Regions from separate parts of the Homo sapiens genome. Here region 2 is linked to region 1. A link means that fine-mapping ties the variant in region 1 to the expression of a gene that starts in the linked region. Tissue or cell type: whole blood. Region 1 holds a variant in brackets; the other region holds the start of a gene. All regions are shown on one strand. Distances are from middle to middle.

Region 1 (5,000 bases):
TCCTTGGCCCACGGCTGTGTGTGGACAGGGAGCACACTGAACGTTCACGCGTCATTCGCATCTGTGGCGGCTTCTATTTTCTGCCAGGTCCTTTCACGCAGCTGCATCCTCAGGGCTGGTCACAAGTGGGTGGCGGCTCGAGCTCTCTCCAGTCTCTGCTGCACGTCTTTGGCGAGATCACAGCTGCTCCCAACCACACTGTACTTCATTCTAGCAGACCTCTTGGCCTTTTCTTCCTCCCTCCACTGAGGATGCTGGTGGGCAAGGCCACTGCCCACTGCTCTAAACGGAGTAACCCCTTCCAAGGCAGCAAGGAAACTGCAGGTCCTGCAGCTGCCCTGTCCCAGTGGAACCTCCGTGCTTCCCAAGTGCAGAGTGGAAGCAGTAAAGGGAGCAGCTCTCAGGCCAGAAGGTCAGATTCTTACTGCTTTCACCCACAGCTCAGCAGTTTTCCAAGCATCAGTGCTTCTCAGATTATCCTTATCAGTTTCCTTTTTGTCAGAGACAAGGTCTCCCTACGTTGCCCAGGCTGGCGTCATGCGGTCCTCTGGCCTTAGCCTCCCACGTAGCATATGCTACCATACCCAGTTCTGGATTGGCTGATCTGAATCGGCCCTACCCAGAAGTCTGCCCCCAACAATTTTTGCTCATTCACTCTCCTGTCTTTACCTTCTGGGAAATCAATATGACAGCCCAAATTTCATCTACCAACCTCCACTTCTATCCCAAGCTGTACTCTCGTGGGACAAGACACACTCAATGTCTGGCACAGGGTGTGGCATACATGAATGTTTCACACACTAACAGGAACTAGGCCAACTGAAACCTTGCTCACCCCGCAGCGGTCTCGGACCTTGACCCCTGGGCCTCAGTGTCTCCCACACCCTTCGGCATCAACAAGAACCAGCGCCCTCTCATCATCTTTACATGCTGTGTACCCAGCCCTGGCTGCTGGCAAACATCGCTGCCCTTCCGCTTCAGACTCCTCTCTTCCTGGAGCAGCTTGCAAGCTTTCTGTGGACTCACTCTGAAGGCGGAGATGGGCCTGCTCCCACCTGGCCTACAGCCTTTTTCCTGGTTCACGGAACAGATCTGGGGCTACACCGATGTTCTTTCTTGGGAATCTGGCTCATAAAGGGGAACGAATATATAAACTAATGGCCAGGAGTCCTGGGAGTCCAGGGTCCCGAATTCCAGACTGTTTCAAGGTTTTTAGGATCTCCCTTCTCCTTTTTTTGAGACAGTCTCACTCTGTCAACCAGGCTGGAGTGCAATAGCATGGTCATAGCTTACTGCAGCCTTGACCTCCAGGCTCAAGGGATCCAACCACCTCAGCCTCCTAAAGTGCTAGGATTACAGGCATGAGCCACCGCGCCCGGCCGGACATGCAGATTTCTGATCCCTTCATTGTCTTCCCTCAATCAAATCACACCCGTTCTTACTTCCAGATGCAGTGAAAACTCACTCCCTCAGGACAGTTCTCTTGGTCAGCCTCGTCCAGCGTTCACTGTGCTGTTTCCATGTCTACCACTTCTGCACCAAATGTGACTTCTTCTTTTTTTTTTGAGACGGAGTCTCGCTCTGTCGCCCAGGCTGGAGTGCAGTGGCGGGATCTCAGCTCAATGCAAGCTCCACCTTCCGGGTTCACGCCATTCTCCTGCCTCAGCCTCCCAAGTAGCTGGGACTACAGGTGCCCGCCACCATGCCCAGCTAATTTTTTGTATTTTTTTAGTAGAGACGGGGTTTCACCATGTCAGCCAGGATGGTCTCCATCTCCTCACCTCATGATCCGCCCACCTCGGCCTCCCAAAGTGCTGGGATTACAGGCGTGAGCCACCACACCTGGCTCAGATGTGACTTCTATTGCCAAATTCTTCTTCATTTCTAGGATGGGACACACTACCACAGCCCTTTTATAAAGTCCTCAACTGACCCAGCCGACTCACCTTTCTCTCCTGGAATGCTCCCTTGCCATCTCCCTTCTCTTCTGTCTTTCCCATTCCCGGCGAGCTTTATCCTGTTCTTCTCGATGCCGTTTCCGACGTTCGTGCTCTCTTTCTTTTTCTTTCACTCTAGCATGCTTCCCTAATGAGAAATAAAGTGTCATGCAAAGAAACCTCACTTCAAAAATTTCACATGAAGCCGGGCACGGAGGCTTATGCCTGTAATCCTAGCACTTTGGGAGGCTGAGGCGGGCGGATCACCTGAGGTCAGGAGTTCAAGGCCATCCTGGCCAACATGGTGAAACCCCGTCTCTACTAAAAATACAAAAATTAGCTGGGCGTGGTGGCAGGCACCTGTAATCCCAGCTACTAAGCGAGGCTGAGGCAG[A/G]AGAATTGCTTGAACCCGGGAGGCGGAGGTTGCAGTGAGCCGAGATCACGCCACTGCACTACAGCCTGGGCAAAAAAAAAAAAAAAACCCACGTGAAACTGAAATTAAGACCGGGCGCGGTGGCTCACGCCTGTAATTCCAGCACTCTGGGAGGCCGAGGTGGGCGGATCACAAGGTCAGATCGGGACCATCCTGGCTAACACGGTGAAACCCCATCTCTACTAAAAATACAAAAAATTAGCTGGGTGTGGTGGCGGGCACCTGTAGTCCCAGCTACTCGGGAGGCTGAGGCGGGAGAATAGCGTGAACCCAGGAGATGGAATTTGCAGTGAGCTGAGATTGCGCCACTGTACTCCAGCCTGGGTGACAAGCAAGACTCCGTCCCAAAAAAAAAAAAAAAAGAAATTAAATCAAGAACAGTAAATATTTAAATAAATATTTAAATAATGATGTTAACGTTAAGTAATCCTAATTTTTCTTTTTTTTCTTTTTTTTTTTTGGAGATGGAGTCTTGCTCTGTCGCCCAGGCTGGAGTGCAGTGGCGCAATCTCGGCTCACTGCAAGCTCCGCCTCCCGTGTTCACACCATTCTCCTGCCTCAGCCTCCCGAGTAGCTGGTACTACAGGCGCCTGCCACCACGCCCGGCTAATTTTTTGTCTTTTTAGTAGAGACGGGGTTCCACCATGTTAGCCAGGATGGTCTTGATGTTCTGACCTCGTGATCTGCCGGCCTCGGCCTCCCAAAGTGTGGGGATTACAGTTGTGAGCCACCGCGCCCGGCCTTTTTTTTTTTTTTTTTTTTTTTTAAAGAGACAGGGTCTCGCTATATTGGCCAGGCTGGTCTTGAACTCCCGGACTCAATTGATCCTCCAAAGTGCTGGGATTACAGGCCTGGGCCACTGCACCCAGCCGAATAATCATGATTTTATGTTAAATAAAAAACTTTGAAAATAAAAAACTATCTGCAGTAAGCGTCTAATTATGAAGAAAGAAGAAAAAAGAAAAACAATTCTGCTATCACAGAAGAGCAGAATTGTAATATTCGTCTTTTAAAACTTTTCCATACTGAATAAACTATAATTATCAGTTTTATAATACAAAAATCACTCTTCACAAAGACTACAGAACAAAGCTTTGCTATCAGTGGGCTTCTCCACTGTGCAATGAAGCCACATTAATTAATCAAGTGTATTTATAATCATGACATTTCAATCGGGCTCCAGGTCCAATTTTCCTAACACCCGTAAGAACCTCCTGATGTTGGTACGAGATCAAACTGCTCAAGCCAAACCCATTCTTTGGACTTGAGCAAATACCCATTTTGGGGTGTGTTTTTCTCCTATACTTGTTGAATTCAGGTCATTTTAAATGTAAACAAACTGCTTCCAAACAATATAATGGGGGAGAGAAAACCCCAGAGGAAAAATGGACTAGCCATTCTGAATGGTCTGTGACACACGCACGCTTTCAGCTAGAGTTTGCTCTCTCTGGTTTTCGGTCTGTGATACACGCATGCTTTCAGCTGGAGTTTGCTCTCTGTAGCCCCTCTGAACGGTCTGTGACACACGCATGCTTTCAGCTAGAGTACTCTATAGCCCCTCTGAATGGTCTGTGACACATGCACGCTTTCAGCTAGAGTACTCTCTCTATAGCCCTTCTGAATGGTCTGTGACACACGCATGCTTTCAGCTGGAGTTTGCTCTCTCTGGTTTTCGGTCTGGGACACATGCATGCTTTTAGCTAGAGTTTGCTCTGTATAGCCCTTCTGAACGGTCTGTGACACACGCATGCTTTCAGCTGGAGTTTGCTCTCTATAGCCCCTCTGAATGGTCTGTGACACACGCATGCTTTCAGATAGAGTATTCTCTCTATAGCCCTTCTGAATGGTCTGTAACACACGCACGCTTTCAGCTAGAGTTTGCTCTCTCTGGTTTTTGGTCTGTGACACACGCATGCTTTTAGCTAGAGTTTGCTCTGTATAGCCCTTCTGAATGGTCTGTGACACATGCATGCTTTCAGCTAGAGTTTGCTCTCTCTGGTTTTTAGTCTGTGACACACACATGCTTTTAGCTAGAGTTTGCTCTGTATAGCCCTTCTGAATGGTCTGTGACACACGCGTGCTTTCAGCTAGAGTTTGCTCTCTCTGGTTTTTGGTCTGTGACACACGCATGCTTTTAGTTAGTTTGCTCTCATAGCCCTTCTGAACGGTCTGTGACACATGCATGCTTTCAGCTATTCTCTCTATAGCCATTCTGAATGGTCTGTGACACACGCACGCTTTCAGCTAGAGTTTGCTCTTTCTGGTTTTCGGTCTGTGACACACGCATGCTTTCAGCTAGAGTTTGCTCTCTCTGGTTTTCGGTCTGTGACGCACGCATGCTTTTAGCTAGAGTATTCTCTCTATAGCCATTCTGAACGGTCTGTGACACACGTATGCTTTCAGCTAGAGTTTGCTTTCTCTGGTTTTTCAGTGGTGCTCTGGGGAAGGCAGAAGAGTAGGAACAGGAAAGAAACCACACTTGAACATGATGTCAAAGAAAGTAAATGCTTCTGTACCCCCTTCTGCTGAATGGCTACGATGCCTACGTTTCTCTTTTCTCTTTTCATCTTTTCTGTGATGAGCTTTTTCTTTCCGAGACATTTGCTGGGGTGGTTTGATGGCCAAAGAAT
Region 2 (6,822 bases), 43 kb after region 1:
CTAAAAATACAAAGTTGGCCGGCATGGTGGCACATGCCTTTAACCCCAGCTGCTCAGGAGGCTGAGGCAGGAGAATCACTTGAACACGGGAGGCAGAGGTTGTGATGAGCCAAGATCGCGCCATTGCACAACAGCCTGGGCAATAAGAACAAAACTCTGTCTCAAAAAAAAAAAAAAGAAACAAAAAAAAATATATATATATATATACATACCATAAAGTGAAATCAACAGCCACAACCTGGGAAAAAATACTTGCAACATGGCAAAGGATTAATATCCAGAAAGTATAAAGAATTCCTACAAACCAAGTAGAAAAACAGGCAAAAAAAAAAAAATGTTGGCGGGGCATGGTGGCTCATGCTTGTAATCCCAGCACTTTGGGAGGCCAAGGCGGGCAGATCACCTGAGGTCAGGAGTTCGAGACCAGCCTGGCCAACATGATGAAACTCCGTCTCTACCAAAAATACAAAAATTAGCCAGGCGTGGTGGCAGGCGCCTGTAATCCCAGCCACGCAGGAGGCTGAGGCAGCAGAATCACTTGAACCTGGGAGGCGGAGGTTGCAGTGAGCTGAGACTGCGCCTGCTCCAGCCTGGGTGACACAGCAAGACTCCGTCTCAAAAAGTAAAGAAAAAAAAAAAACAAAACAACATATTTCACAGAGAAGAATTTATGTTTTTGGAGAAGGAGTTTCGCTCCTGTCGCCCAGGCTGGAGTGCAGTGGTGAGATATCAGCTCACTGCAACCTCAACCTCCCAGGTTCAAGCGATTCACAGAGGACAATTTCTAAAAGGCAAATAAGAAGCAGGAAGGGTGCATGCTCCTTCTCTACTGCCCTGTAACAGTCATTCCACACTTACCACCTCAAAACAACAAATGCTTTTGATGTTGGCTCCTGTGGGGCAGCAATCTGCGGGAAGCTTAGCCAGGCACCTCTGGCTTAAGGTCCCTCCTGAAGCTGCAGTCACACCATGGACCAGGGCTGTGACCTCATCCGAAGGCTCAACTGGGGCTGAGGCCCACCTCTGAGCTCACTCAGGTGGACGCTGGCTGGGTTCAGTTCCTTGCTGGCTATAGGTGGAAAGGGCCCCCACCAGTTTCTTGCCAGCTTCTCCACAGGACGCCCCACAGCCTGACAGGAGCTTTCATCCAGCAAGCTCATCAGGGAGTGGGAGAGAGCAGCCAGGACAGGAGCCCAGACCTTTCTGAACCTCATCTCAGAAGTGACATCCTTCCCTTCTGCTGTCTGGGCACAGCTCCCCGGGTGGAGCCCGAGGACTAGAAGGAAAAGAAAACTTGGATTTAAAATGGGATAAAGCCATAGGAGCTGCTCGTCCCACCACAGGAATCTCAACGCCGGGTTACTGACAAAGCGTCACTTTGCACCTCGTCCAACTGTGCAGACCTCTCCTAGCCAGGCCCCTGCACCAGAGGTTAAGAATCCGTGCCCCTGGTCAGGAAGTCCAGGTGGGTTCAAACGGCCAGCAGGGAATTTCAGGCAAAATGTGTCCCAAATCTTCAAACCATGCCCCAGAACTCAGACCTCCCCCTGGGAGTTCGTCCCAAGGAAACCACCTGCAAGAGGCTCAGGCTGCAGGGGACACTCCGCTTCCAAAACCCGGAAGCTGGAGACCACACAAGTGCCCAACGCCAAAGGCACCCCGTGGAGGGACGCCCTGTGCCCTCCCCCGACCAGGTGACCCGCTGCGCCCTACACATCTTCACCAGGAAACATCTGTTATCGATGTGGACGAAGCGCAGCCTGCACTCCCAGATCCGCTCATTTTCGTTCTGCCCTCCGTTTTACGATTCGCCTACACTGAAAATGCGTGAGTGGAGTGGAAAGCCTTCCTACTCCTGCCTCAGCGACCCCTTCTAAAATACTGCCTCGTTTGGCCTGAAAATGTGATTTGCAGGCTTCCTGAGCAAAGTAGATTTCACTCCATTAAAGAAAAAAAAAAAGAAAAGGCACCGAACGGGGCTCGGCTGTCGGGAGTTTTGCTTTAGTTTTTTGCGTGTTTTGTTTTGTGTTTTTTTGTTGTTGTTGTTCTTTTTGCGGCCACGCACACCGCGTTCCCAGGCTTCAGGGCGTGGGGGTCGCCGTGGACTCCCGGACGTGAAAACGCTTAAAGCCAGCTGGGAAAACCCCACCAGCGTTTTCCGCGCACAGCGCCAGCCATAGGAAAGGACCCCCAGGAGCGAATCCGGGCAGGGAAACCCCGGACGCCCGCACACTCAGCATCAGTACCGGCACCCAGCACCCAGCACCGAGCACCGAGCACGCAGCACCCAGCACCGATCACCGAGCAGAGCACCCCGCACGCAGAACCCACCGAGAGCCTGATGCAGTCTCCGCCGCAGGCATAGCGCTAGGCCCCGGCGCCTTCACAACAAAGGGACGCTGGCGGGCGGGGCCTGAGAGGCGCGCGGTGGAGGGGCCGGGCGCGAGGCCGCGGAGACAGCTCGGAGCTCGGCACTGGGGAGTGGCACAGCGCTGGCGGATCCAGGTGGGCTTCACGGGGCGCCCGCGGGACCGGAAATGACGCGCAGAACCCTGCATCGGGCTCCTCGCTGCCCCGCGGGCGCCGCTCCTCAGTGCCCCAGAGCCACGGAGCCGGGGAAACGCGCCGCGGCCCACAACGCCCCCGCGGCTGCCCGTTGGTTCCGCCCGGGCCGTTCTACTCCAGGCAGACGGGAGGAGAAACACGGCGCGCTCAGCGTCCCCTCCCCCGTTGGTTCTGCTCGGGCCCTTCCACTGCAGGCCGACGGGGGTGGAAACACGCAGTTTTTTTTTTTTTTTTAAGGTCTAGGGTAACACGGGGCTTTTAAGTGCCTCTCCGCTGCCGCCTGGTGGTCCAGCCCGGGCCGTTGCAGTGCAGCCACACGGGGAGGGACACGGCGCGCCGAGTGCTCCGGGCGGCCGCACGTTGGTTCCGCCCGGGCCGTTCCACTGCAGGCAGAGGGAGAGGACGACGGTGCGCGTAGTGCATCCCCGTGGCCCGTTGGTTCCGCCGGGGCCGTTCCACTGAAGGCAGAAGGGGGGGGACCGTGGCCCCACCCCCCGCGGCAGCCCGTTGGTTCCGCCCGGGCGGTTCCGCCCGGGCTGTTCCACCAGCGGCACTTCAGGGCGGGATCGGCCAGTCTGTGGAGGCAGCGGCCTCTAAGCCCCGGAGGGTTTACTGCCCAGGTTTGGGTTCCAGGAATAAGAAATCCACTGAATAGGCTTAACTTAGAAGACACAAAGGCGCCTCCTGGCGGAAGTGGCCACGCTCCGCCCAGCCTGAGGGAAAGCTGCTCTGACAGCTGGGCCCGGAGCTGCGGGGGGCGGGGCCGCCGCGCGGGGTGAGGACTCGCCTCAGGGCGCTGATTGGCTGGTGGCGCGCTCCGGGGCGGGGCCTTCGTATCCAGGCTGGCGTCGGGGCTGCCGCGGGACATCCGGAGCAGACACCCGCGGGCGCGCCTGCGGCCCCGAGGACCCCCGGCTCCGGAGCTTCGTCGAGCGTTTTCCTAGCGTTACTTTCCCAAATAATTTTCAGGAATGAAGTTACGGCTAAAGGGCTCTTTAGAGATTACTTTTGGGCCGGGCCCGGTGGCTCACGCCTGTAATCTCAACACTTTGGGAGGCCGAGGCCGGCGCATCACGAGGTCAGGAGCTTGAGACCAGCCTGGTATGGCCAACGTGGTAAAACGTCGTCTCTACTAAAAATACAAAAATTGGCCGGGCGTGGTGGCGGGCGCCTGTAATCCCAGCTACTCCGGAGGCTGAGGAAGGAGGATCACCTGAACCCGGGAGGCGGAGGTTGCAGTGAGCCGAGATGGCGCCACTGCACTCCAGCCTGGCGACAGAGCGAGACTCCCTGTCAAAAGAAAAAAGAAAAGATTACTTTTGGCCGGGCGAGGTGGCTCACGTCTGTAATCCCAGCATTTTGAGAGGCTGAGGCGGGCGGATCGCCTGAGGTCAGGAGTTCGAGACCAGCCTGGCCAACATAGTGAACCCCCCCCCATCTCTACTAAAAATACAAAAAAAAATTACCCGGGTCTCGTGGCGCGTGCCTGTGGTCCCCGCTACTCGGGAGGTTGAGGCAGGAGAATCGCTTGAACCTTGGAGTTGAAGGTTGCAGTGAGGCGAGATAGCGCCGCTGCTCTCCGACCTGGGCGACAGTGGGAGACTTCATCTCATAAATAAATAAATAAATAAATATTACTTTTACGTTTTGTTAAACTTCCACTTGTTTTTGTTTCCGTTGCATGAACCTTCGTAAAGCTTCAGGAGGCTGATGGCAGCCTCCTTCCCCAGGCTTCCCCGTGGCGCCCGCAGCCGGGTTGGGCCAGAGGCTGGGACTGTTTCCTCCCGTGGGGTCTTTGGTGGGGATGTCCCCAGAGGAGTGGGGCAGGAGGAGGGGCACGGAGCGCCCCCGGGAGCCGGTCAGAGCGCAGCGATGGTGTCTGTGGTTCCAACCACTCGGGAGGCTGAGGTGGGAGGATGGCTTGAGCCTGGGAGCTTGAGGCTGCAGTGAGCTAGAATCACAGCACCACACTCCAGCCTGGGCGACAGAGTGAGACCCTTGTCTCACAAAAAAAAAAAAAAAAAAAAAAAAAAAAAAAAAAAGGCTGGGTGCGTTGGCTCGCGCCTGTAATCCCAGCACTTTGGGTGGCCGAGGCGGGCGGATCACGAGGTCAGGAGATCGAGACCATCCTGGCTAACACGATGAAACCCCGTCTCTACAAAAAATACGAAAAAAAATTAGCCGGGCATGGTGGCACGTGCCTGTAATCCCAGCTACTTGGGAGGCTGAGGCAGGAGAATCACTTGAACTCAGGAGGCAGAGCTTGCAGTGAGCCAAGATTGGGCCACTGCACTCCAGCCTGGCGACAGAGTGAGACTCCGTCAAAAAAAAAAAAAAAAAAAAAAGGAAGAAAGAAAATTATAAAATGAAGTGAAATTAACGCAGTGGAGTGCCACCTGCCTGCTGCCTGAGTTCACTATCCACACGGAGTTCATAAATTTGAGAGCAGTTTACAAAGTAGATTCTCCTACTTTCCAGGAAACCCAGAAATGTCTGGTGATTTGCCCAACAGTCTCAGCTGTTGTGGTCAGCAGGGCCGCTGTGGTATCCAAATGATTTCAAAAGCAGATTTATAAAAAGTACTCCTTTTTTTTTTGAGATGGAATTTCGCTCTCATCGCCCAGGTTGGAGTGCAGTGGCACGATCTCAGCTCACTGCAACCTCCGCCTCCCGGGTTCAAGTGATTCTCCTGCCTCAGCCTCCTGAGTAGCTGGGATTACAGATGTGTGCCCTCACGCCCAGCTAATTTTTATATTTTTAGTAGAGACAGGGTTTCACCATGTTGGCCAAGATGTTCTCCATCTCCTGACCTTGTGATCTGCCCGCTTCAGCCTCCCAAAGTGCTGGGATTACAGGCGTGAGCTACCCCACGCCCGGCCTTTATTTTTTTTTGAGACGGAGTCTCACTCTGTCGCCCAGGCTGGAGTGCAGTGGCGCGATCTCGGCTCACTGCAAGCTCCACCTCCCAGGTTCAAGAGATTCTTCTGCCTCAGCCTCCCGAGGAGTTGGGATCACAGGCACCCGCCACCATGCCCAGCTAATTGTTTTGTATTTTTAGTAGAGACGGGGTTTCACCGTTGTTAGCCAGGATGCTCTTGAACTCCTGACCTCATGATCCACCCACCTTGGCCTCCCAAAGTGCTGGGATTACAGGTGTGAGCCACCACGCCTGGCCTCTCAAAGTTTTTATAGCAAAGCCTTACATTTCATGAGGAACCATGCATTTTATTTTATTTTTGAGATGGGGGATCTCGCTACTTTGCCCAGGCTGGGCTCAAACTCAGGGCTCTCTGGCCTCAGCCTCCCGAGTAGCTGGGTCTGCAGGTGGCTGTCACCGTGCTGGGCCTGGGGTGTGCGTATTAATGATTTTGGAATAGTGTCTGGAAGCCTGTGTGCTTTCCTCTCTTCCTCTCCCCAGAAGGACCTCCCACCTCGTCCTCCCAAAGTGTTGGGATTACAGGTGTGAGCCACCATGTCCCCTCTCTTTGCTATTTTGCCTGGGAGGAGTGTATTAATAATTTTAATTTTAAAGTTCTTTGATTATGTTCTAGTTTGATTATTGATCATTTACTTCTTAGCTATTTATATTCTTCCTTGAGTCATCGGTTTCTGCCCTTTGACAATTTTTCTGTGAATGTTTTGTGTCGATTATATGAGCTTTGTCTGTATTGAGAACATCCACGAATTGTATTATTGCATCTGTTTTGCTAGTTGAGAACATCGACCTGCTGTATTATTGCAAATGTTTTCCTGCTTGCATGTAGTCATTTGTTGTGCATATTAATGAATTTCTATCCACATGACGCCGGAAGGGGATAGAGTGGGTGGGGAGGAAGAGGGAAGGGTCCCCACCTGGAGACCCAGCCTGCAGGCCACTCGGCCACCTGCGCAGAGGTAGGGGAGCAGCAGCCGCTCATGCCCCTGCAATTTGTCCTCATCAGCAGGTGGGGAAACTGAGGCCGGGGAGTTCTCCAGGCCAAGGTCACTCACGGGCAAGTTCCCGCAGCCTTTGGACCCTCCATACATGTCAGGGCCGCTCATGCTTTCCTGGGCCCTTCACTGGTTTGGAGGAACCATCCTGTTTCCCAGAGCGCACTGCCTGTCTCTGAGTGTATGTGTCTCAGTGGCGTCCATGTGTATTTTTCTGTGTGTGTATCTGTGTGAGTCTGTGTGTGTGGTGTGTTTGTGTCTGAGTGTGTGGTGTTAGCGTGTGTCTCAGTGGCGTCCATGCATATTTTTCTGTGTGATGTGTCTGTG

The links. PIP is the estimated chance that this variant, and not a neighbour inherited with it, causes the effect.
Region 2: SLC35E2B starts here. The variant in region 1 is fine-mapped to the expression of SLC35E2B in whole blood (TOPMed, PIP above 0.99).

The regions. Positions count from the first base shown.
Region 1 is chr1:1,647,553-1,652,552 of GRCh38, forward strand. It overlaps CDK11B (cyclin dependent kinase 11B), which reads right to left. Exons shown (of 20, transcript NM_033486.3): 4 at 4,887-5,000; 5 at 1,947-2,085. Among named protein-coding and RNA genes, the nearest start is that of CDK11B, 9.0 kb to the right of the region's middle. The variant A/G (reference allele first, on the strand shown) is at 2,332.
Region 2 is chr1:1,690,118-1,696,939 of GRCh38, forward strand. SLC35E2B (solute carrier family 35 member E2B) reads right to left here and starts at 2,678. Exons shown (of 10, transcript NM_001290264.2): 1 at 2,332-2,678; 2 at 859-1,276. RefSeq lists an enhancer at 2,213-2,507 and silencers at 2,342-2,501, 3,072-3,151.